Linked DNA regions of Homo sapiens. The protein of the gene in region 2 purifies or fractionates together with the protein of the main gene of each other region. This does not show direct contact. Each region holds a gene or a part of one and is shown on either strand. Other genes may lie near its edges.

The links.
Region 1: the proteins of SLC12A1 (region 2) and DNAJC10 purify together in Homo sapiens (affinity purification with mass spectrometry; one large-scale study listed by BioGRID and IntAct). This does not show direct contact.
Region 3: the proteins of SLC12A1 (region 2) and FN3KRP purify together in Homo sapiens (affinity purification with mass spectrometry; one large-scale study listed by BioGRID and IntAct). This does not show direct contact.
Region 4: the proteins of SLC12A1 (region 2) and RABGAP1 purify together in Homo sapiens (affinity purification with mass spectrometry; one large-scale study listed by BioGRID and IntAct). This does not show direct contact.
Region 5: the proteins of SLC12A1 (region 2) and ELOVL7 purify together in Homo sapiens (affinity purification with mass spectrometry; one large-scale study listed by BioGRID and IntAct). This does not show direct contact.
Region 6: the proteins of SLC12A1 (region 2) and STK39 purify together in Homo sapiens (affinity purification with mass spectrometry; one large-scale study listed by BioGRID and IntAct). This does not show direct contact.
Region 7: the proteins of SLC12A1 (region 2) and TDRKH purify together in Homo sapiens (affinity purification with mass spectrometry; one large-scale study listed by BioGRID and IntAct). This does not show direct contact.

Annotation. Positions count from the first base shown.
Region 1 is NC_000002.12:182,726,257-182,729,756, reverse strand, and holds part of DNAJC10 (dnaJ homolog subfamily C member 10 isoform 1 precursor), read right to left. Parts: intron 1,182-3,500; coding exon 1,099-1,181; intron 895-1,098; coding exon 763-894; intron 1-762. UniProt on the Homo sapiens protein: Endoplasmic reticulum disulfide reductase involved both in the correct folding of proteins and degradation of misfolded proteins.
Region 2 is NC_000015.10:48,300,302-48,304,578, reverse strand, and holds the end of SLC12A1 (solute carrier family 12 member 1), read right to left. Parts: intron 3,265-4,277; coding exon 3,197-3,264; intron 1,830-3,196; coding exon 1,694-1,829; 3' UTR 501-1,693; downstream 1-500. UniProt on the Homo sapiens protein: Renal sodium, potassium and chloride ion cotransporter that mediates the transepithelial NaCl reabsorption in the thick ascending limb and plays an essential role in the urinary concentration and volume regulation. Electrically silent transporter system.
Region 3 is NC_000017.11:82,723,206-82,726,705, forward strand, and holds part of FN3KRP (ketosamine-3-kinase), read left to right. Parts: intron 1-3,274; coding exon 3,275-3,397; intron 3,398-3,500.
Region 4 is NC_000009.12:122,944,020-122,947,519, reverse strand, and holds part of RABGAP1 (rab GTPase-activating protein 1), read right to left. Parts: intron 2,189-3,500; exon of another isoform or gene 2,088-2,188; intron 1-2,087. UniProt on the Homo sapiens protein: May act as a GTPase-activating protein of RAB6A. May play a role in microtubule nucleation by centrosome. May participate in a RAB6A-mediated pathway involved in the metaphase-anaphase transition.
Region 5 is NC_000005.10:60,774,770-60,778,269, forward strand, and holds part of ELOVL7 (very long chain fatty acid elongase 7), read right to left. Parts: intron 1-3,500. UniProt on the Homo sapiens protein: Catalyzes the first and rate-limiting reaction of the four reactions that constitute the long-chain fatty acids elongation cycle.
Region 6 is NC_000002.12:168,160,596-168,164,095, forward strand, and holds part of STK39 (STE20/SPS1-related proline-alanine-rich protein kinase), read right to left. Parts: intron 3,286-3,500; coding exon 3,144-3,285; intron 3,138-3,143; exon of another isoform or gene 3,127-3,137; coding exon of another isoform or gene 3,047-3,126; intron 1,248-3,046; coding exon 1,192-1,247; intron 1-1,191. UniProt on the Homo sapiens protein: Effector serine/threonine-protein kinase component of the WNK-SPAK/OSR1 kinase cascade, which is involved in various processes, such as ion transport, response to hypertonic stress and blood pressure.
Region 7 is NC_000001.11:151,773,501-151,777,000, forward strand, and holds part of TDRKH (tudor and KH domain-containing protein), read right to left. Parts: intron 3,100-3,500; coding exon 2,939-3,099; intron 2,769-2,938; coding exon 2,596-2,768; intron 2,385-2,595; coding exon 2,320-2,384; intron 2,044-2,319; coding exon 1,892-2,043; intron 1,667-1,891; coding exon 1,565-1,666; intron 1,307-1,564; coding exon 1,210-1,306; intron 1,005-1,209; coding exon 952-1,004; 3' UTR 1-951. UniProt on the Homo sapiens protein: Participates in the primary piRNA biogenesis pathway and is required during spermatogenesis to repress transposable elements and prevent their mobilization, which is essential for the germline integrity.

The DNA.
Region 1 (3,500 bases), on a different chromosome or scaffold from region 2:
CTTGAATAATGCAGCAAAGCTCTATTTCTCAATAGCAGAATGTATTTCCAAATGATATCCTGATAATCTTGACAGTACAGATTCTATGGAACACATTTTAATAATACCATTTATAATCGTTCAGGTTCCTCACTGGAAACTAAGAAAAAAGATATCAGAGCTTTACATTCAATGAGACAACACTTGTAAAATACTTTGTAAACTACCAAATACAATATACATATTGTATAAATTATGTTCCTTAAGACAGAAACTGAAATTGGCAAACATTTAATTTTAAAATATAGCAAAGTCAATGGTGTTTTTTTTGCCAGGCACTGTGGCTCACGCCTGTAATCCCAGCACTGTGGGAGGCTGAGGTGGGCAGATCACCTAAGGTCAGGAGTTCAAGACCAGCCTGGCCAACATGGCGAAACCCCGTCTCTACTAAAAATACAAAAATTAGCCAGACATGGGAGCGGGTGCCTGTAGTCCCAGCTACTCGGGAGGCTGAGGCAGGAGAACTGCTTGAGCCCAGGAGGCAGAGGTTGCAGTGAGCCGAGACTGCACCCTTGCACTCCAGCCTGGGCAACAGAGTGAGACTCCATCTCAAAAAAAAAAATTCATAATCCAAAATGTTTATTATTACAGAAGACTAGTGAGATGGCACCTTGTAAAACAAGACTTAAAATGTTCTGCAAATTCTACATACTGTTATTTTCTCTACTATTTAACTTGTCATAATGTTTCACAAATTTAAAAAATGCTAACTTTATCCCTTACCATTCCAGACCGAAAAATGAAGAGGCTGGGATAGCTGTTGACTCCTTTCATTCGGCAAAGCATTCTATCATCACCACAGTTAACAGCTCCAATTCGAAGTAACCCATCCACTTCTTTAGCAAAGTCTCTCCACTATGACAGAAAAAGAAAACATATTTCTCTGATAAGACCACTTTTCTTCCCTTGAACACACTCCAAGCTATATATTTTTAAACCAGACATTTAAAGTATTTGATAATTATTTTTGATTACTATTCATAGAAAAAAAAATTCTAACATATAAATTGCAGATCAATTAGAAATAAAACTAGTAATGAGGATGTGAAAAATACATACTGTGGGAGCTAAATCATGGCAGTGTGAACAGCCTGGGGAGTAAAAATTTACAAACCACAGTTCTCCAGAATTAACAGCAGCATCTAAAAATACATAAAATGCAAACAACTTAGAATTATTTATTAAAGGTTCATGCATATTTTAGTTAAAAACTTTTTGTGGAGATCAGAATTTTAAAAAGTCATGCAATTTTCATATTGTCTTTCTCATTTTCTGTGTGATGTTTTTCTATATCTTCTACATAAATGACATTTTTAAAAAATTAAAAATTTTTTTTCCACAAGAAACATTTCAAATGTCAAACCAACAATAGCTTTTTAAAAAAACTCTCCTACGCCCATACTTGAAAAAGAAGCAGCCTCAAACTGCAAGATAAATATGGCCATAAAGTTGTAAAAAGTGACGGCACAAGAAATAGCAGCCAAACCTCACGTAAGAGTTTGTGTGCATGAGAGAAATAAAGAAGACAAATAGTAAGAGTGACTGAGATTTAAGCTCTTCTATTACATGCAGCACAGGTTAAGTAGGTTTAGTCAATTCTGACAGCTACTGTAAACTCTGAAAGAATAAAATAAGAGACCTACATAATACAGTAAGGATTGCGGGGATTAAATTTAATCTAAGCCCTAAACAAGACATTACCTTGGAAAATCATTTTGTTTGAAAAGGTTGAGGTTTTTAACAATTCAAAACATTAATACATATTTGCTAAAATTACAGATTTGAACAACATATAATATCTAGCCAATAGTACATTTTATATTTTATCTGTAAAATGACCTGATGCAAATTACAAATTTTACTCACTTAAAAAATTTAACATTGTAAAAATGTGCTTTCACATTCAAGATAAAAAGGCGAGGTTAATCTGCTTTTGGTTAAAGGATTTCCATATAATTCCATGTTAAAATTTATTATTTTAAAATAAAAATTTCAGAAATTACAGTAAGACATTAAATCACACATGGTATTCTAAATACGTGCAACTAATTCAGGCTAATTAGAAACAGGTGCAGGACTCAGTGTTCACCTACATTTCAAGTATAAGACAGACCTGTGGGAAAACAGTTAATCTACACATTACAGGCAAAGTGTGTAATTCAGGACTATGGGCTGTTCTTTGGCAATGTTTTCAAAGTCTGGCAAATGACCATTCTATAGAGGTGGTCGAAAAAATTGCCATATTGGTTTAGACCACAAACCAGTACAAATTTAGGTAAAAATATTAACAGAATTAATGCAAACTTTAATGAAAGAAGGGATTATCTTATCAGCTATAAACAAGTAATGAGGTAGTTATTTTTATATAAAAATAGAAAGCAATAATTACACAAGGTATTACTGTTCATAAGTCTTAAATAAAAATATGCTGTAAAACAAATTTGAATGGTATTTGACACAAAACCTTTCTTGTAGTAAAAATGTCTCCTACCCTGGTAACAGGCATACCTCAGATATTGTGGGTTTGTTTCCAAATCACAACATAGCAAGTATCACTATAAAGGAGTCACACAAATTTTCTGGTTTTCCAGTGCATATAAAAGTTATATTTACACTATATACAGTGTATTATGTAATAGCATTATGTCTAAAAAAAAAAAACAAACAAAACAATGTACATACCTTAATTAGAAAATAGGCTGGGCGCAGTGGCTCATGCTTGTCATCTAGCCTTTTGGGAGGCTGAGACAGGAGGATCACTTGAGCCCAGGAGTTTGAGACCAGCCTGGGAAACACAGCAAGACCCTGTCTCTATAAAAATAGCTGGACATGGTGGCACATGCCCGCAGTCTCAGCTAGTCGGGAGACTGAGGCAGCAGGATTGCTTGAGCCCAGGAGTTCAAGGCTGTGATGAGCTATGATCCTGCTGCTGCACTCTCCAGGTGGGGTGACAAACCAACCAAGGAACAAAAAATAACTTTATTGGTAAAAAATGCTAACAGTCATTTCAGCCTTTCAGCAAGTCATGCATGTCGTGATGTTGATGGGTGCTGACTGATCAGGGTGGTGGTTGTGTAAGGTTGGGGTGGCTGTGGCAATTTCTTAAAATGAGATGACAATGAAGTTTGCCACACTGATTGATGTCTCCTTTCCTGAAAGATTTTCTCTGAAGCGTGAAATGCTGTTTGATGGCATCTGACCCACAGTAGAACTTCTTTCAAAATTGGAGTCAAAACTGGCCTCAAACCCTGCTGCTGTTTTATCAACCAAGTTTATGTAATATTCTAAATCCTTTGTTGTCATATCAACATTGTTTACAGGATCTTCACCAGGAGTAGGTTCCATCTCAGGAAATCACTTTCTCTGCTCATCCATAAGGAACAACTCCTCACCGCCCCATGGTGAGATTATTATAATGAGATAATTATATTATAATGAGATCATTATAATGAGATTGCAGC
Region 2 (4,277 bases):
CTTCCCTCAGGTGTTGATCCCCAGGGGATCATGCTAAACTTTGTCTCAGAGTCTGTTTCCCAAGGAGCCCAACTTGCAGCAGCCGGGAAAGAAACAAGAGCCAGAATGTCCTGTTAAAGAAGTCATATTACTTCTCACCTTTCCCAGAGACCCTCAAGTATTTCAGAGAAGTGTCAGGCCCACATGAAGCTGAGTTTAGGCATTTGGATTTCAGGTCCATAGTGCTCAAGAGAAAGGGTTTTATCAAGGGCAGAGTTAAGCACAGTGGCCCTGGATTTGGAATAGGAATATCCAGCTGCCTAAGCTTTGCTGATGGTCTCCCTTATTCTCTGGTCATCCTTCTGAGCAGAGAGGCTGGGTTAGGAAGTCCTGATCTTGAATCCTAGCTTTAAGCAGCTGCAGATGAGGCCACTGACTGAAATCTTCAGGCTCACATCTGATACACCATTGCACCACAATTTTAGTGACTGAAAGTAAAAACATGACCTAGGCCAAAGCAATTGAATTTGAGTGCTTTTATTTCAGGTTCATATTTTCCCATATATGTTTTCAGTTAGAATGAACAGTCAAAACATGTCAAGGAGAAAAATCAAGCCATTCATCAGAAAATCAATATTTTCATTGGTTTGTCAATGTGATTATGTATTATAGGTATACTAACAAAAATGAAAAAAATCAGTATCTGTATATTCCAAATTTTACAAGTTTTTCAACTTCACATTTTAATTATTCTTTTAAATCCATACAATCACTATAGAAAGTAACTAAATATATGATTCAGGATATATTTCTTAATAATGGTTTGAAAATTTGTAGCACTTAGTTTTCAAGTAGTCATCTATAAAGATTTCATCTGTACTAACCATTTAATTAGAAAAAAATATGCAAAGTAATGCCGTGATGGAAATTTCAAAATATTTGATAGGGAGTACAATTAAAGTTTATATATTGAGAATAGAATATATTTCATTTTATTGGAGTATATGGTGTCTTCTAATCTAGTTAATATACTTTTCAGGCAGCAGCAAATTTAAGCCATATGTTATCAATGATTGCTCAGATCACTTTAAGTATATAATCTGTTACATTAAATAACCTTATTTAGGTAACTGCTTTGAATATTTTGTAGACTCAACTACTTCTTAAAGTTTTGAGTTACTGATTTTTAAATCTGCTTTGGAGGTATAAGCCTCTGAGGGGGCCAAGCATAATTATGTTCCCCAGCCTATTGGTCTTTTCCTTTGATAACCACCTGTGGTTACTATGCCAGCCTGTCAATAAGCATTTATTGAGATCCTGCTGTGGGGCTGAGACCTATACCAGGGCTGAGAAGCAAACACTCAAAACAAAAAATTAAGAAACAAAAGGTTAAGTTTGTCTGGAGAAGTTTACAATCACATTGGTGGTTTTCATGAGCATAAGCCAACATGAGTTTCCTTGATTTTCTTGTTTATCAACAGCAGTGACAAAAATGTTTTTCTAGGGATAACATTGGCTTTGACAACCCCTTAAGCTGAGAAGAGAAAAAAAAGCTCGCATTAACTGATAAAAATTATGCAATGTATGTAGAATCTGGTAGGATCCTCTCCAGAGGTTTGCATATCCATAGATCAGATTTACAACATAAAGTACTGGAACATGTTTCTTAATTATGCATTACATTAAGTTAAAATGTATTCCAATCTTTCATGTTTTAAGAGTAAAATGTCAAGACATTTTTGTGATTTCCTCTAACTAGTAAGACAGGTGGGAGGTTCTTTGTGAGGATTTCCAACCAAGCCATATACAACAAATCCGATATGGATCCCTTTCTTGCCACGGGAAGGCTCCTAATGACATGAAGGAAAAATTTAAAAATGAAAGTGAAAATTACTATAGGTAGTAACGGCACTAGTATTTCTGAGCTATTTAATAACTGGCAGCCTTAATTTTTTTTTTTTTTTTTTTTTTTTGAGACGGAGTCTCGCTCTGTCGCCCAGGCCGGACTGCGGACTGCAGTGGCACAATCTCGGCTCACTGCAAGCTCCGCTTCCCGGGTTCACGCCATTCTCCTGCCTCAGCCTCCCGAGTAGCTGGGACTACAGGCGCCCGCCACCGCGCCCGGCTAATTTTTTGTATTTTTAGTAGAGACGGGGTTTCACCTTGTTAGCCAGGATGGTCTCGATCTCCTGACCTCATGATCCACCCGCCTCGGCCTCCCAAAGTGCTGGGATTGCAGGCGTGAGCCACCGCGCCCGGCCGGCAGCCTTAATTTTTACGCCACCCCAAGATGAAAGCACCAAAATTATTTTTACTGTAGATAGCAAACTGATGTATTTTTCAGGTAATACTATCTATAAACCAGAAAAACAGGCTTAGGTATTGTAAAGACAAAACAAAAATGTACATTTTCACTTTCCTTTAAATAGGGAATTTGATCAGCTAATACCTACCCCCGTTTTTGGTGTAAATGATTTTTCAAATAATTTAAATATCTTATATTTGGGAAAAACCTCAGAAACCATCTATTGGAACCCTACCACCCAATCCAGCAGACCATTCTACAATGTCTTTGATGGATAGTTGTCCAGTCTACACTACGTGAAGATATATTTATCTTTATACATAGGAGTCAATTCATGAGGTATAAATGTGAAGTCATTAGAGATTTTCTTGTTTAAATACCAACCTTTAAGTAAACAAACATACATTTTCAGTAGACGCAACCCTAACATTTGTAAGGCTAGAGCATAAAGAGTGAAAATGGAAATGGCTCTGCCTTTTTCTCCTACCCTGGCCTCTTCCTACAGTACAGGGAGCCTCATGAACCTGCCATGGGCACAGTGGCTCAGGGACATCCACTCAGGGAAGGGGCCCGTGAGCTGTGGTCGCTGACTTGTGGCTGTTAGGCAGAGAAATCCAGGGTCTCAGATTCCTGGAGCATGGTCTTACTAGATGGGCACACGCCTCTTCATAAGGCATGGTGGACAGCAAGTCCAAGTGAGGCTCTCTGATGCTCATGGGCCTGAGGGGTCAAGGTCTCAGAGTGGCACTTACCTTCCTTCACTGTCTAAGAATCCCACGTGTTCCCCCCCCCAAAAAAAACACAAAAACAAAACAAAATTCCCACCTGAAGAGTCCCAAGCTTTTAAATGGATTAACCCATTAACCCTAAGATTTATTTCTAATGTTCTTCAATGCTTGCAATGATACTTACAGGACAATGAGATTAGCAGCTCTGGAGTGCTCCTGTAAGAGTTCATTCAGTCGAACTTGGCGGTAACTCTGTGGGCAACATTCAGATTTGTTGAGTACAGTTCTACCAGAATTATGAATGAGAATTTATTTTCTTAAATCATGAACAAGCAGAAAATCTCATCTTAAAAAATGTATAAAAATTACAATTACTTTTTCAGGCTTAGAAACTTATGGTGTTTTAAAACCTCATGAGAAATTTTAGAAATATAAAGAATAAGACACAGTACAAAGATTTTCATTGTGCTATAGTGGCTTATTAAATTCTAGGGAGAGGGGAAGCAAACAACATAGATAACACTAAAAAGAAGGTGTTTTCTCCTACCCTGGCCTCTTCCTACACTACAAGGAGCCTCATGAACCTGCCATGGGCACAGTGGCATATGCCCATGCCTATGCACAGTGGAATGGCCAGTTTGAGGCAATAGGTTTTCTGTTAAAAAAGAAACCGATTGAATCTTTATACCAATTTGATACTCTAAGAACATAAATTATATTCTAGTCTGCCTTTCTTTAAGCTCTCTGAATATTCTGTAAGCAGAGGGGGCTTTCAATTAAAAAGCCACCAAAAGACTCACTTGGAAAAATAACCACTTTGCAGTGATGAGAGTAATATTTTTTATTGTATTTCACTGGTTCAGAAACCAAGGCTCAGATGCATGATTTGCTCAATTATATGAAAAAACTTGGTCAGAACCGGGCAGTTTGTTACACACAGACTTTATAATTCTAGTTCAGTCTCTTTTTTTTCACTAAATCTAAAAGGCTTTTAGCGTTTCTTGCTCGAATTTTTTCAAGTTCAGCTCCTAATGTGGTTTATGTAGGGCATGGTGGGCAGTCAGTCCAAGCGAGGCTCTCTGAAGCTCGTGGGCCCCAGGGGTCAGGGTCTCAGGGTGGCCCTTATCTTCCTTCACTGTCCAAAATCCCACATGTTCCAGTAAAACAAAATCCTACCTGAAGAGCTTTTAAATTGATTAACCCATTTATCCTAAGATTTCTCTCTCTCTTTTTTTTTTTTTTAAACAGGGTTTCACTCCTATCAT
Region 3 (3,500 bases), on a different chromosome or scaffold from region 2:
ATTTTATGGTGGCTTCCCTCCGCATTTCCACCTGGGGAGTTCTGCTTGACGCCCAGCACATGTGCAGTGGACAGGGCTCCTGTCCTGTCCTCGAGAGGAGGGTACAGATGAACCCAGAAAACTTGCCAGGGTTTCCTGGCGGGCGCGGGGGCAGTAGAAAGACTTTGAAATGTTGAAGTTTGTTCAGAAACCTGCTTAGGGGCGGGGAGTGGTGCCCTCTGGTCCTGCCTGCTGGCGGGGGGTGGGGGGTTTTCGCCAGCTCCGCCCCTTCGTCTCGTGGCTGTACTCACAGTGTGTGTGTGCATGTGTGTGTGTGCATATGTGTATTTGTGTGCACGCACGTCTGTGCGCATATGTGTATGTGTGTGCATGTGTGTGCATATGTGTGCATGTGTATGTGCACGCATGTGTGCATATGTGTATGTGTGCACACGTGTGTGCATGTGTGTACGCGTGTGCGCGCACATGTATGTGTGCAGGCGTGTGTGCGCATGACTGTGTGCCTGATGCATGATGTTGGCGTCGTGTGCTACTCCAGTCGTGTGTGTCTGTCTTGCTTCCCTCCTGGGTGGTAAGCACCTGTGACCTGGATGTCCTTTCTCGGGGTCCTTCTCAATGGGGCTCCATGTGACTTTTCCTGTCATCACTGTCTGGGGAGGGGCTGTCTGGACAGATGTCAGAAGTGAGCCATGGGGTTGGGGCAGGTCAGCCAGCTCTGGCCTCAGTACTCCAGTGTGATTGTAAATTAAGAGGAAATGTTAGCCAGTTGCTTTAGCAGCAAAAAAAAAATTTTTTTTTTTAAATAAAAAAGCCCTGGTGGTTCATGCCTGTAATTCCAGCACTTTGGGAGGCCGAGGTGGGAGGATTGCTTGAGCCCAGCAGTTCGAGACCAGCCTGGCCAACATGGTGAAACCCTCTCTCTAGTAAAAATACAAAAAATTAGCAGGGTGTGGTGGTGCGTGCCTGTAGTTCCAGCCACTTGGAAGGCTGAGGTGGGAGGATTGCTTAAGCCTGGGAATTGAAGGCTGCAGTGAGCTGTGATTGCACCACTGCACTCCAGCTTGGGTAATGGAGCAAGACCTTGTTTCACAAAGATGAAAAAGAAAGAAAATGTTCTGGACCGGGCACGGTGGCTCACGCCTGTAATCTCAGCACTTTGGGAGGCCGAGGCGGGCAGATCACGTGAGGTAGAGTTTGAGACCAGCCTGACCAACATGGTGAAATCCTGTCTCTACTAAAAATACAAAAATTAGCCGGGCATGGTGGTGCGCACCTGTAATCCCAGCTACTCTGGGGGCTGAGGCAGGAGAATCGCTTGAACCCGGGAGACAGAGATTGCAGTGAGCTGAAATCACGCCATTGCACTCCAGCCTGGGTGACAAGAGTGAAACTTCATCTCAAAAAAGAAAAAAAAAAAGTAAAAAGTAAACTAAAAGGTAGTACAGTCAGATATCTTCTGTTACATATGGAACCTGTAAAGGCCAAAAGTGTGCTGCATGTGTGCCAACCAGAGCACGAGGGAGCAGGCCCCATGGCACCCTGTGATGTGAGTGTGACTTGGGACAACGATCTTTATGGGCAGCAACGTGGCAATGCCTATCAAAAAAAAAATTTTTTTTTTGAGATGGAGTCTCGCTCTGTCACCCAGGCTGGAGTGCAGTGGTGCGATCTTGGCTCACTGCAAGTTCCGCCTCCCAGGTTCACGCCATTCTTCTGCCTCAGCCTCCTGAGTAGCTGGGACTACAGGTGCCTGTCACCATGCCCGGCTAATTTTTTTTTGTATTTTTAGTAGAGATGGGGTTCCACCGTGTTAGCCAGGACAGTCTCAATCTCCTGGCCTTGTGATCTGCTTGCCTCAACCTCCCAAGGTGCTGGGATTACAGGCATGAGCCACCGTGCCTGGCCAAAAATTTAAAATTTAGTTTTAATTTTAATTTTAAAAGATAGAGTCTCTCTCTGTTGCCCAGGCTGGAGAGCAGTGGCATGATCATAGCTCACTGCAGCCTCAAACTTTCTGGGCTCAAGCCATCCTCCTGCCCCAGCCTCCCATGTAGCTGGGACTACAGGCATACACCACCACACTTGGCTAATTTTTTAATTTTTTTTGTAGAGACAGGGGTCTCACTATGTTGCCCAGGCTGGTCTCAAACTCCTGGGCTCAAGTGATCCTCCCACCTCAGCCACGCAAAATGCTGGGATTACAGATATTGCTCACCACTCCCAGCCCCCTTTCAAATTTTTTAATTTATTTAATTTATTTTTTTGAAATGGAGTCTCGCTGTCACCCAGGCTAGAGTGCAGTGGTGCGATCTTGGCTCACTGCAACCTCCAGCTTCCGGGTTCAATCAGTTCTCCTGCCTCAGCCTCCTGTGTGACTGGGATTACAGGCGCCCACCACCACGTCCGGCTAATTTTTGTATTTTTAGTACAAGCATGAGCCACCACACCTGGCCCCCCTTTCAAAATTTTAAATGGACTTATGCTCTGACCCAGTAATTATCCTTTAGGATTTATTCTACAGGCATATTTACACGTATGCAAAATGGCACAGACACAAGGGTATTTGCTGTGCCACTCTTGGTACTATGACAAGGAAAATCCAGAGGAGCACTGGGTGAAGTCCTGGTGCATCATCTGATGAACTATTGTCAGCTGCTACAAAACAACGTAAAGAAAGTGGGAGCAGGGCCAGGTGCAGTGGCCCACGCCCGCCCGTAATCCCAGCACTTTGAGAGGCTGAAGCGGGCAGATCACCTGAGGTCAGGAGTTTGAGACCAGCCTGACCAACATGGCGAAACCCCGTCTCTACTAAAAATACAAAAAAATTAGCCGGGCGTGGTGGTGCATGCTTGTAATCCCAGCTACTTGGGAGGCTGAGGCAGGAGAATTGCTTGAACCCGGGAGGCAGAGGTTGCAGTGAGCCGAGATGGCGCCACTGCACTCCAGCCTGGGCAATGAGAGCGAAACTCTATCTCAGAAAAAAGAAAAAGAAAAAAAAATGTTCTAGAAGCCTTCATTCTTGGAAGGCTACAGAGTGGGTCCTGAAGCATCCCCATGCTTCCCACTGCTCTTGGGATAGGATCTGAGGTCTCAGCATGTCCATGAGACTCCGGTTCCTCCTGGGATGTGGTTCCCCCCTCAGGCTCCTGTGACTGCCACCCCTCCCACGTGCCGCTCCTGCAGCCCTCTCCACTTTGAGATGCTTGTGGGTAGCTGAGCTCTCCCTTGGTTCTGGCATTTTCCAGTGAACTGTGCTTTTGCTGTTACTGTGCAGGTGAATGACTGGCAGGAGGACTGGGTCGTGTTCTATGCCCGGCAGCGCATTCAGCCCCAGATGGACATGGTGGAGAAGGAGTCTGGGGACAGGGAGGCCCTCCAGCTTTGGTCTGCTCTGCAGGTGAGTGGGGCCCCACTGCATGCCCAGCACCTGCCACACACCCCACTTGCCTGAGGTAGGGGAGGCACCAAGGCAGGTGAGGCCACCTCTGAGTCTGATTCTG
Region 4 (3,500 bases), on a different chromosome or scaffold from region 2:
ATAAGTTGTAATCTTTTTGCATTGTGATTAAGTAATAACACAAACATTACCATCTTAGCCACGGAAGTGTACAATTTTGTGTCATTAAATACATTTACATTGTCATGCAACCATCACCATCATCTATCCTTGGAACATTTCCTTTCTTAACTCTGTGCCCATTAACACTAATTCCCTATTCTCTTCCTCCTCCAAAAACCACTATTCTACTTTCCATCTCTAAGAAATTGACTACTCTAGGTGTATCATATAAGCAGTGGAATTACACAATATTTATCATTTCATAACTGGTTTATTTCATTTAGTATAAGTCTTCAAGGTTTATTCATATTGTAGCATGTGTCACAATTTCCCTAAGGCTGAATAATATTTCAATGTATGTATGCCACATTTATCCTTCAATAAAAGTAAGTTTCAAAATAATTATAACTTTATAGGGTCTTTAGGGGGGATATCAGGTGTTTTCCATTACAGTTCCATGAGGTAGATGTAAGTAGCTCCATGTTTAAAAATGGAGTTTCTGAGGATAAGCTACTTAATCACTCCTTCTCAGAGACTTGGGATATCCATGTCTTTCTCACCCCAAAGTTCATACTCTCCCCACTATATCTTGATACTTCATACTTCTAATGAAAGGTACAAGAGGTAACAAGTAGGGATGAAATGTGCATAAAACAGAGTTCATTTAACTCTGTTAATTATGAGTGTGATAATGCTGACACCTGAAAAAAATCTTGCCAATGGTTTTCTCATGTTCCCATGGATATTTCAGGAAACACACTTTAATTTTTTCCAGAACTCTACATATGCTGGCTTAATGCCATTTCAACACAATATCTGTGAAACTAAATATTTAAATTGTTATTTGGATTCCACGTCCACAATAGAAGCTATCCCTGGGAACACAGGGAAAGTCAGCTTAATGTTAATGTACTACTCATTCACAAGGTCAGATTATATTCCTGACTTGCTAGTACAGATTTTAAAAACTGTTCAGATTTCTACAGTATAATTTACATTAGCATTTAATAAATGTAAAAATATGAGTATTTTTAAGCAACGCAGGGTTAGTCAAAGACTTTTCCTCTTTTTAGGAAATTAGTCAATATAGTTCCTTCTCATCTACAATAAAGAAAATGAATCTATTCCACTTAGAATATGCATCTGTTTACATTCAGATCTAAAATGTATTATTCACTTCTCTTTAATCTACATGAATTTAAAACTCAGCAGGCAAATCATTCAACAGATGATCAAAGTCTAAGATAAATGCAGAAATATAATTTGTCTTTTCTATGACCTGTTTGATTTTCAGGGGAATGCATGTAGGCAAACCATGAATGTTTGGCAGAAGATACGTGTTTTCTGTGCCTTCCAGTATGCTATCTCGTATTATCCTTCATGATAGTTAAAATATACTCCCAAAGCTGGTCCAAAGACAGTGAGTTATCTCGATTGTTCAGTCAGTTACAGAACAAACTCCTTGTTCTACTCTTTTCCCCGTTCTCACTACTGCACTTTAGTAGTCTTAAAAAATAAAATATATTCCCAAAGGATTCTGCATATCATTTCCTTAACTGATAAAAGATCATCCTCAGAAAATGGAAAACAAAATTATAAACCATAGGTTGTTGGTTAGTTACCAAAATGCATAAATAAGGGAAAAAGGGAGAAAGTTTTAAAACAGTCAAATTGTTGTTAAAGTTTGACTTAGTAACATTATGTTAAAGTTACCACAGAAACTCACTTGCTAATGTACCTTCAGAAATGCCAGATTTAGGTACAGAGAAAAATTTATTTCCACAAAGACTTACAGAACCCAAGGAGTAGTAGTTTATAACACAAATGCTGATGCAACCTTAACAGGAAATACATAACAACTATGCATTAATTCTTGGAGAGGTACACAATTAAGAAGATATATTTCTCATACTTTACAACCAAGATAATACATACATACTATTTAATGTCAGGCAGGAGCTTAAAAGTAGGTTTAGGGCTTTATTTCACTGTATAGTGATCAGAAAAAGGGATTTAGGGGGAAAAGTCTGATAGAAAACAATCTTCAAAAAATTCTCACTGAGTACCTCAGAATATTATGGTTGATTTGGAAAGAGGAGGGAAACTTTCAGGCCACATTGTATAAACTAATGTGTTCAAGACTTGCACACTTCCATATTTGGTCAGTCTGCACATGAAGAGAAACAAGGCTGTTAGGGTCAACGTGAATGGTTACAATGTAAGCTTAAACGTCTATCCAATATTGTTACAAAGTTTCTAAAGAATAATGATCTCAGGATCAACACAAAACAGAGGGGTGAGGGTGGTTGGGATGACTAGGTAACCAGTTTATGCTAAAAAAAAAAAAAAAAGCAACAGCTATGATGTATACATGGTGTTTTTCCAGGCATACTCACGGGCATTAAGTCCTGAGCCTTGAATTTTTTTTCAGTGGGATCTAACTATGTAAACTCAGTAAAACAAGGTAACTACATACAAAGCACCAAAATGTCATGCCAAATTCTGCTTTACGTACCTTAAATGAGCACTTCTTAAATATTTGAGTTCTATCTCCAAGAAACATTATTTAACAAACTATAGGAACGATCCCTGAAGTATAGTCTTGCTAAGAAAGATTATTTAGGCCGGGCGCGGTGGCTTTCTCTTGTAATCCTATCATTTTGGGAGGCCGAGGCAGGTGGATTACCTGAGGTCAGGAGTTCGAGACCAGCCTGGCCAACATAGTGAAAACCCGTCTCTACTAAAAATAAAAAAAAAAAAATTATCTGGGTGTGGTGGTGCGCGCCTGTAGTCCCAGCTACTCGGGAAGCTGAGGCAGGAGAACCTCTTAAACCCGGAAGGCGGAGGTTGCAGTGAGCCGAGATCACGCCACTGCACTCCAGCCTGGGAGGATGCAGTGAGCTGATATCGTGCCGCCACACTCCAGCCTGGGCGACAGAGTGAGACTCCGTTTCAAAAGAAGAAAAAAAAAAGAAACAAACAAAGATTATTTAAGAGTGTTGTCACGTTGGGAGGCCAGAGTGGGAGGATTGCTTGAGGCCAGGTGTTTGATAACAGCTTGGGCCACACAGTGAAACCCAGTCTCTACAAACAATAGCAAAATTCACTGGGTGTGGTCGCATGTGCCTGCAGTCCTAGCTACTTGGGAGGCTGAAGCAGGAGGATCACTGGTGCCCAGAAGTTCAAGGTTGAGGTGAGCTACGACAGCACTACTGCACTCCAGCCTGGGAAAGAGAACAAAACCCTATCTCTTTTAAAAAAAAAAAAAAGTGTGTTGTATTCATTTATTCCACATGCTTGAGAAGTCTACTGATACCTGATTATATTGAAATTACAAAGATAACATTATGGGCAGCCTATGTCAGAACCTTAGCAAACCAGTGTTTTTACAAAGATACTCACCTGTAGCACCAATTTAAACTATTTTCTGAAAACTGTATTCAAAAATTCCTTGTTAAAACTACTGGGAAATAATGAGA
Region 5 (3,500 bases), on a different chromosome or scaffold from region 2:
TTTTTTTTTTTTTGAGACGGAGTCTTGCTCTTGTCGCCCAGGCTGGAATGCAATGGCATGATCTTGGTTCACTGCAACCTCTGCCTCCTGGGTTCAAGTGAATCTCCTGCCTCAGTCTCCTGAGGAGCTGGGATTACAGGTGCCCGCCACCATGCCCAGCTAATTTTTGTATTTTTAGTAGAGACAGGGTTTCACCTTGTTGGCCAGGCTGGTCTCAAACTCCTGACCTCGTGATCTGCCCACGTTGGCCTCCCAAAGTGCTGGGATTACAGGCATGAGCCACCACACCCAGCCAAAACTCTTATATTTGATAAATGAATTCAGTAAAGTTACAGGATACAAAATCAATGTATGAAAATCAGTAGCATTTCTATGCACCAAAGCATTATCCTTAAGAGCTTGGAACAGCTCTTCAACCCTCAAGCTGACAGCCAAATCAAGAATGCAATCCTATTTACAATAACCACAAGCACAAAAAATAAAACACATAGGAATACATCTAACCAAGGAAGTAAAAGATCTGTACAAGGAGCATTACAAAACACTGCTGAAAGAAATCATGGAAAATACAAATGGAAAAACATTCCATGCTCATGGATTAGAAAAATCAACATTGTTAGATGTCCATACTGTTCAAAACAATCTAAAGATTCAATGCTATTCCTATCAAATTACCAATGTTATTTTTTACAAAATTAGAAAAAACTATTCTCAAATTCATAGAAAACCAAAAATGAGCCCAAATAGCCAAAGCAATCTTAAGCAAAAAGAACAAAGCTGGAGGCATCACATTATCTTACTTCAAACTGTACTACACGGCTACAGTAACCAAAACAGCATGGTATTGATATAAAAATAGACACATCGGCCAATGGAACTGAACAGAAAACCCAGAAATAAAGGAGCATACCTAAAACCAACTGATATTCAACAAAGTCAATGAAAATAAGCAATGGGGAAAGGACTCCCTATTCAATAGATGGTGCTAGGAAAACTGGCTAATCATATGCAGAAGACTGAAACTGGACCACTACCTACCACCATACACAAAAATTAACTTAAGATGGATTAAAGACTTAAATGCAAGACCTAAAACTATAAAAATCCCAGGAGAAAACCTAACCTAGGAAACACTCTTCTGGACACTGGCCTTGGCAAAGGCTTTATGACCAAGTCCTCAAAAGCAATTGCAACACAAATAAAAATCAACAATTAAGACCTAATTAAACTAAAGAGCTTTTGCACAGCAAAAGAAACTAACAGAGTAAACAGACAACCTATGGACTGGGAGAAAACACAAACTATGCATCCAACAGGACTAATATCCAGAATCCACAAGAAACTTAAATCAACAAGAAAAAATAAATAACTTCATTAAAAAGTGGGCAAAGAGCATGAACAGACACTTCACAAAAGAAGACATACAAGCGGCCAACAAACATTAAAAAGTCAAATAATTACAGAAGTTGTTGAGGCTGTGGAGAAAAGGGAATGCTTATACACTGTTGGTGGAAATGCAAATTAGTTCAGCCATTGTGGAAAGCAGTTTGGAGATTTCTCAAAAAACTGCAAATAGAACTATTATTCAACCCAGCAATTCCACTATTAGGTACATACTGAAAGGAAAATGCCAAAAATATACATACACTTGCATGTTCACTGCAGGACTATTCATAACAGCAAAGACATGTAATCAACCTAGGTGCCCATTAATGGTGGATTGGATAAAGAAAATGTGGTACATATATACTGTGGAGTACTATGCAGTCATTAAAAAGAACAAAATCATATCCTTTGCAGCAACATGAACGTAGTTGGAGACCATTATCCTAAGCAAATGAACACAGAAATGCAAAACCAAATGCTACATGTTCTCACTTATAAGTGGGAGCTAAGTCTTGGGTACATGCAGGTATAGATGGGAACAACAGACTGAAGAATCCAAAATGTGGGAGGGAAGGAAGGGGACAAGGGCTGAAAAACATACTTTTAAGTACTATGTTCACTATATTCATGATGCAATCACTAGAAGCCCAAACCTCAGCATCAGACAATATAGCCTAGTTATAAACTTGCACGTGTACCACCTGAATCTAAAATAAAAATTTTAAAAACAGGTAGTGATAGTGACAGATAAATAGGAGATTATTTTGAAATACAGTAAGGAAGAAGAAAATATAAAAATTTATAATTGGTTAAACACAGGGAATGGAAATAGGTAAATGTTAAGAAAAATATTCAGATTTCTCACTTATATGTGGGATGTAAGAATCAAAACAATTAAGTCCATGGAGATAGAGTAGAAGGGTGGTTGCCAGAGGCTAGGAAGGGTACTAGGGGGGTTGGGGGGGAGGTGGGAATAGCTAATGGGTACAAAGAAAATAGAATGAATAAGACCTAGTATTTGGTGGCACGACAGGCTGACTTATAGTCAATAATAATTTAAATGTATGTTTTAAAATATAATTGGATTATTTGTAACCCAAAGGATAAATGCTTGAGGGGATGGATACCCCCATTTTACATGATATAATTATTACATATTGCATGCCTGTATCAAAACATCTTATGTATTCCATAAATATATACACCTACTATTTACCCGCAAAAATTAAAAAAAAAATTTTTAAAAGAAAAATACTCAGATCTTTAAATTCACTTAGATTGGGAACACAGGATTAGGAGCAATATTGGTCAAGCAGAGGTGGCTTATGTTTTAAAACATCTTACACTTAGACTGCCTTTAAAACATTCATATGAAGTCTTTCATAAGCAGCTGGATATATGGATCTAGAATTAGGAGAGAGATCTGTGCCAGAGATATAAGATTGAGGGTTGCCATCACATAAATGATGAACAATAAAAGCAGTGAGATTGGCTTAGGCTAAGTGGGTACAGTAAGGAGAGTAAGTGCTGAAGTCAGGATCCTGAGGACTCAGCATTCACAGAAGGAATTACTGAAGGAAAAAACATAAAAACCAAAAAGGAACAGCTAGAGAAGTAGAGGGAAAACCATAAAAGTGAGATATCCTGAAGCCAGGGAAGAGTGGATTTTCGGAAGGAGTCAAAGCATTAAGTGTGGCAGAAAGGGGAAATAAAATGGGGACAGAAAAATGCCACTACATTTAACAAAAGGACGTCTCTGATGCTCTCAGCAGAATAATTTTAACAAGGTGTCATGCACAAAATAGAAATTAAACAAAAGTTTGATGACAGACACTTTTCAAAACATAAAGTTCTATAATTTCGGAAGTATTTTCTCATATTAAGATTTGTCACAGTTCTAAATCAGGAAAAACTTTGAAATCAGCTACCCAGGTACACATCACTGAAATCTTTTACTGCTTCTATTGGTTCCCCTCCTTGCTTTTAACAATGGCAAGCTTTCTAGGATGTCTCGTTGTTTTGTGCAATTAAAACCACCACAAGGAAGGCTTGCTATGGGTCTGTATGTCACAAAGGAAGTCTCCATAAATAAAAGTTGTCACAGAACCAGGGAC
Region 6 (3,500 bases), on a different chromosome or scaffold from region 2:
TATATTTTTACCCTTCTTTAAGGAAACTGAGTCTTAAGAAGGTTTGGTAACTTGCCCAAGGTGGTACAGCTACTAAGTGGTGGCCTCAGAATTTCGATCAAGTCAGCTGACACCAGAGCCTGCACTCTGAACAACTAGACTGCTTGGGGCTGGACAGTTTGAAATCTTTGCCCACAGATGTCTCTTAGCTGTTACTTGTTTAACTGAAGTACTTTTTCAAACTGTCCTTAGCCTATGGGATAAGGTCCACTCATGAGGACAAGATATGCACACACAAAGCACTAACTCAGATGGCTCAACAACAAAATCCAGCCTCCACGATGAGGAGAGGCACCAGAGTCGGGGGGTGGGGGTGGGGGGCAGCAGATGAATCAAGAATTGCCAAAGATTGATAATTATTGAAACTAGGTGATGGGTACAAGTGGGCTCATCTTACGCGTCTCTGCAATGACAGGGTCACTCCAGTAGAGGGAATGACTGTCTAGCCAAAAAATGCCAAGAACACTCCCCCAAGAAACCATGAAAGCTAAAAGGATTGCTGAGACAGACTTTCAACGACATGGGTAAAGCAAGAGTTAATATGGGCGTGGCTACATCTTATCCCAGGCCTTTAAGGTTACTCTAGGGCCAATAACAAAATAGAGGCTTTGAACACGAAAGGTGCTCACCTGATATTGTGTGTTCATGTAAAAGACATTCATTGCATCCCCAGCCTACCAGCTTTGTCAAGAATAGCCATGTTGGGTCAGAGTTAAAAACAAAATAAGGCCCAGATTTTTAATGTTCACAATTCTTTCAGATACCTCTTAAGAAATAAATTAGTTTTTAATTGATGTGTATGATGTTTTAAATTTTCAAACCTATCGAAAAATGTTTTTACAAGTGCATTTCTTGAAGTTATATGAGTATTACCATTATAAAATGTGAAAGGTAGAAAACATAATAAAATTGAAAATAAAATTATTCTTTATCAAAAAGCTATGTACTAAAATGGCATTTTTCACAGGATGATCTAATGACTTATCAAAACAATAAGGAAAATATGTTATCCTTCGGACCCAAACATTCTGTAAATATCATTCTGAAAAGAGATTACATGCATTTATTCATTTCTCAGGAATGATTCTACATTCCTTGAAACTGTAACACTTCCGTAATCAAGTAAAAAATTTTTCTATTTATCAGCTTTACCTGCTATTTGTACTGAACCATCCTCACCCAGAAGAATATTACCAGCTTTCAAATCCCTATTAGAAAAAAAAATAGAAAATAAATTGTAGGGTACAGACTTTATAGTGTATTGATTCACTCAGGAAGATTTTAAAACATATCATACAACGCAGCTCTTTGACATAATAATTTCATAAATATTAAGATAATAGCACAGATTTTAAAAGTTATAAGGATAGGCTGGGCACAGTGGCTCACGCCTGTAATCCCAGCACTTTGGGAGGCCAAGGTGGGTGGAGCACCTGAGGTCAGGAGTTCGAGACCAGCCTGGAAAAAATGGTGAAACCCCATCTCTACTAAAAATATAAAAATTAGTTGGGCATGGTGGCAGGTGCCTGTAATCCCAGCTACTTGGGAGGCTGAGGCAGAAGAATCACTTGAACCTGGGAGGTGGAGGCTGCAGTGAGCCAACACCGTGCCACTGCACTCCAGCCTGGGCAACAAGAGTGAAACTTGGTCTCAAAAAAAAAAAAAAAAAAAAAAAAAAGGTATAAGGATCCACCTGTCACTTTATAGTTTACTCGTGGGGGAGAGTTAGGATTTTAGAAAGAAATATTTTCTATGAAATAATTATCCAAATTTAATTAAATCATCAGTAAATAGACTCTCTATTTTATGCTTCAGAGTTAGACACTGCCCATAAACTCACACTACTGTCATTCTACCAAGTATTAAAGCCCAGTCTATGTAAAGCTCCTCTACTTCCACTTAAATTTGGGATGCAATTCCAACTTAATTATCTTTCTGAAAAATGAACTTCTCTCTGGTGAGAGACTGATTATAAATACTAATTATAATAATAGATATTATATTTCTTCACCGTATAAAACCTGTGTAATCTTAGTACTTTGAAAAATGACAACTTGCAATTTATAAATTTGATTTCTAAAGTAACTTTTTTCTAATTATTGAAAAATATAGGCCAGCCACAGTGGCTCACGCCTGTAATCCTAGCACTTTGGGAGGCTAAGGTGGGCAGATCATCTGGGATCAAGAGTGTCAGTCCAGCCTGGCCAACATGGTGAACCCCATCTCTACTAAAAATACAAAAATTAGCCAGGCATGGTGCCGCATGCCTGTAATCCCAGCTACTCGGGAGGCTGAGACAGGAGAATTGCTTGAACTCGGGAGGCAGAGGTTGCAGTGAGCTGAGATCACACCATTGCACTCCAGCCTGGGCAACAGAGCAAGACTCTGTCTCAAAAAAAAAAAGAAAAAGAAAAATATAGTAGAAATAATTAAATATAAATTTCAGGGTAGGAGAATTACATTATTAGTATTACTGGTAAATGGCTATTTACTTGCAATAATTCCTAAGAGCCCAAGTAGCACTCACTCACTTGAAACATCAAGCACTCATATTCTATGTGATTTGACTATGTAAAGAATTAACATTTTATGTCACAAAAGAAGATGAGTACCTCTTCCTTCCCTCTCACCACCACATCAAAAATAATTCACATAGTACAATGTTTGGATAGTCTTGCTTGTATTAGAAAGATAGAGATGCTGTCTAGTTCAACTAGTATAATTCAAGAGTAGTTACCAAAACTGATCTTTTTAAATGAGTCCATGTAGTCCTTTTTAGATTCCACTCTTATTTCAGTGAAAGCAACTGAAGCAATCCCAAGGATACCAATATAATTCATCAAAATTTATTCTCTTGTTTCTTTCTTAAGTACTTTTTTCCCATCTATTTAGACTAAGTTAAAGTAATGTCAATACCTGCCTGCAACATGTGTTTCCTTAACATTCTTTACAAACTAGGGCTGAAGATATGAACATCTGAATTTAAACATCTCTGCAGAGGTCACACCTGTGAATCTGACCGTTTCTGTGTAGACAGTCTAAGCCTTCCAAAACCTCTTTAAGATATGAACATCTGAATTTAAACATCTCTGCAGAGGTCATACCTGTGAATCTGACCGTTTCTGTGTAGATAGTCTAAGCCTTCCAAAACCTCTTTAAGAATTGTTGCTATTATTGCCTCTTCCAGAACTCCATTCTTGTGTTCTCCTCGGTTGACAATGTATTTTATGATATCCAACATTGAACCTAAGTAGACAAACAGAAGAATTAAAACATAAGCACCTTCATCACCTTTTCAGAACAAGACTCCATTATGTATAAAATTTAATAGAAACATCAAAATATGGGCTTTATTTAATGCAAATATTCCCAAGGCAAACAAACAATTGAATGGGGGCCCCATGACCAAAAACACTAAATCCAAGTTTGCAAGAGCACTTTCAGTGTGAATTTAACGAGAA
Region 7 (3,500 bases), on a different chromosome or scaffold from region 2:
GAGAACTTTATTCAGCAAAAAAATCCTCCAAATGATTCAAACAGGACTGTATACTCTTCCTCTCTCTCCACGGGTGTATATGTGTGTATACATATAGATATTATACTAGCAATTTAGAAAATTTCCTGAGCCTCCTGTCTCCTTTCTACTTATATTTTAACTAAAGGTTACAGAGAAATAGCTGGAGCAGTTTCAAAAGCCTGTCTCCAATAACATATCAGCAATTGAGGCTGGGAGGCAGTATTCTCTTCCCACTTCCTGAGGCTTTTAAATATAATTATGCTAATTTTTGCCTTTGCCTCCTGATTCAACTGGAGTCTTTGAGTTCACCACTCAAAAGCTTTCCTTAACCAGAGTCACCTGATAAGGTGAGTCAGAAGTCTGCAGAATCACTTCCAATGACGAAAGCCTGACTGTTTCCCAGCCTCAAAAAGGATACAGCCTAGTAGTAATGTGAATCATGACTGGTAGAGGGGACTGAGCCTGACGTTGAACGGCCTGGAAGTAACACAGCAGTATTCAAACACTGGAGGGTTGGGGAGGGATCCGGAGGTGGAATGGGGGAGACACACTTGTAGCGTGGTAGTCCAATTTTTTTGTAGTCTGATGGGAGGAGAATATTAATTTGGTCCACAGCAAGCCAGACTATATGTGTAATAAAGGAAGGACTGCATGGATCCTTTATCATACACTCCTCTCCTCCATGCACCAATTCCTATGCCAAATCCTGCCAAAGACAGAAATACACAAAAAGCTTGAAAGTGCTCAATCTGAGAGCAAGTTAAGCTGCAGGAAAGCAGCTGCAGAGAAGTATATTAAGACAGGGCATGGGAAAGAGGGAATCAAAGCAAGTGCCCCACTGTCGCCCTCATTACTTTCCTGTTGCTACAGATAGATGATAGCTGCACTCACACAGCAAAGCAGATGGCTGAGCAAACTGAAGCCCAGACTTCAGAGTAAGTAGTCATCTTCAAGGTTATCATCACCAGACATGGAAGCAGCTTCTATTGAAGATAAATAAGAAGGAGAAAGTTAGACACTGCCCTATTCTAGCAGGCAATGCCAGCGAGGCTCAAAAGAAAAATGGACCTCTTGGTACTCAATGACCTGACTAGGAACCAAGCCTTCAATTAACCTCCCTACTCTGGAAAGACTGAATGAGAAAAGTTAATCTCCAAAGATGCTCTAGGGAGGAAATACTGCTTGTACCTGATAAGCTGAGGCAGGACAGGGTATGTGTTATCTCTCCAGAGCTCTTTTTGGTCTCAGTGAGCAACGTGCTGAGAGAGGCATCTGTTTCTGTGGCCTGAGTGGATGAAAACAGGAAAAAAGGAGGAACATGTTGGCTTTTAGGAAAAAAGAGGCCACCCTTTCATTCTTCTCATAGGACCTGGTTAAGGCAGTTGCATTTGGCTACCAAGAGGGACAAAATGCTCCTTTGGTCAACTACTGGAGGAGCTCAAAGTCCTTAGGAAAGCTAACACAGTATCAGGACTAGAAGCCCTTAGTGTCTATGTGCTAGATTTGCCTGGAAGCAGCACCCTATATAACTACAATAGCTCACCATGTCCTTCAACATGTCTGGGACAGCTCTGTTTTCTTCTATGTCTTCAGGAAGCTCAATTGCGTATCCTTTGTGTACTAATTCTAGCCCAATATCAAGTTTCTGAGAAGAAAAATGAAAAGGGAATGATGTTCTCTCAGTAAGCAAGGGCAAATTTGAGGAAACAAGGCAGAAGGACTGATACTTTAAAGACATTCCTTTGGTGAGATGGTGAGAAGGATCTTACAGTAAGAGTAATATCAGATAAGGGTTTCTGAGGAAGAAAAAGTAAATTAGGCTATAAATATACTGAAGATATGGCAAGCAGTGAGTGAATGCCAGTCTTACCTTCCCATTGCTAGTATCATATAAGTAGATCTTTGGCCAAGTTGAGATCCCAGTCTGGACATAGCTAGAGATCTTGGCTACCAGAGGCTTCCAGTCAGCACAATGAGTGAGTCTATCAAACTCATCCAAAGCTTCCTCTTCCCACTGGTCACCTGGCAAAAGATTGTAGGGGTTACTGCTGATAGGGGTGGGGCTTATACCCTGGAGGGAAGTTGGAACTACCCTTTTCTACTCAGGAAGGCACCTGTGTCTTCTCTGGTTGGGTTGGGTCTGCCAGGCAAGTTTCTGGCTGCTGCTAGTGCTGGTGAGGAAAAGGCACCTGAGTCCCCAGAATTCAAAAAGCCTGGGAATGTGAGAATTCCTTCCAATGAACTGTATGAAGTTATTCTATTTGGAGGTAAGCTCAATAGATGGCATGACCAATTTACCTGAGGGAGCAATCCGTGCCAGACTACATTCTATTGCTTGAAATGGAAGGCTTAGGAAGTCACTCCTGAAGTAAAAGAAACTAAAATTAGAATCCTGGGGCCAAAAACATCTTCTTACATTGCTGCTTTCAGAAAGAACCAACTAACATGAGACGATAACCATCTGCTCTCTGTAAACAGGTTCCCTTCCAAATCCCCCTGACAACTGCCAACAGCTCACCACCCTATGGCCAGAACTGAGTCAGCAGTTGGGATTGAGCTGACCTCAGCACTGACCTGAGAGCCCTGAGGTCCTTCAGTGGGCAATCTCCATTATCTCCAAAGTCAACAAAATAGAGGTCCAAGTTCCCATTCTCCAAGGTGCCGAGGACCCGGGCTCGATACCAGGAACCATTTGTAGGTAAAGGTGCTGCTACAATGTCTCCTACATGCACAGTCAAGTCTTCAGGCTGTATGTGGGGAGGAGGAGAAAGGCAGAGAGTTACAAAGTGGTAGGCTCATAAACAGAATTGCAGGAGGAAGAAAGAAAAGTAGTTGCTCCACAGGGAAAGGAAGAGTACAATGAAAAAGATATGCCTTCTTTTCATTAAACCCCAGCCCTGTCCCTATGGCAACTCACCACACTATTCTCATAGTGCTGGGTCATCTCATTGACAAGCTTATCCAATTGCAGGCTGCGGGAGCCAACGATCTGGATCCAGAAGTGGTTAGGGTGCTCAGAAGCAGAAACGTAGACTTCTAGGTACTCATCAGCATGAAAACTGAAGTCAGGACTGGGGACTGAACACAGAGATAAGGATGGTGGCCACATCAGACCCATCTCTGGTTGGAATGAAGAGACTAACCAGGGTAGTGAGAGGTACAAATACCAATGGCTGTTACCATTTTAAAATGGCAGGAGAGGCAACTGGATGAATCAAACAAGAATATCCTAAAGAAAGATACTAAGCTATCCTTTGTACCTTTCCATGTAACTGAGTAATAACAGCTTACATTCTTTGTCATGTGCTACATAGTCAAATCGGTCACCAATTATACAGAAGGTAAACCTCCATATGCTAGCTACAGCATGGATCAGTAAAAAGGTATATGGACAGCAATCTTTACATGGACAGTGACGGACATGGACCTGTTCCAGATCCCATTCTACCACTGACTCTTTACATGACCCTGGACAAGTC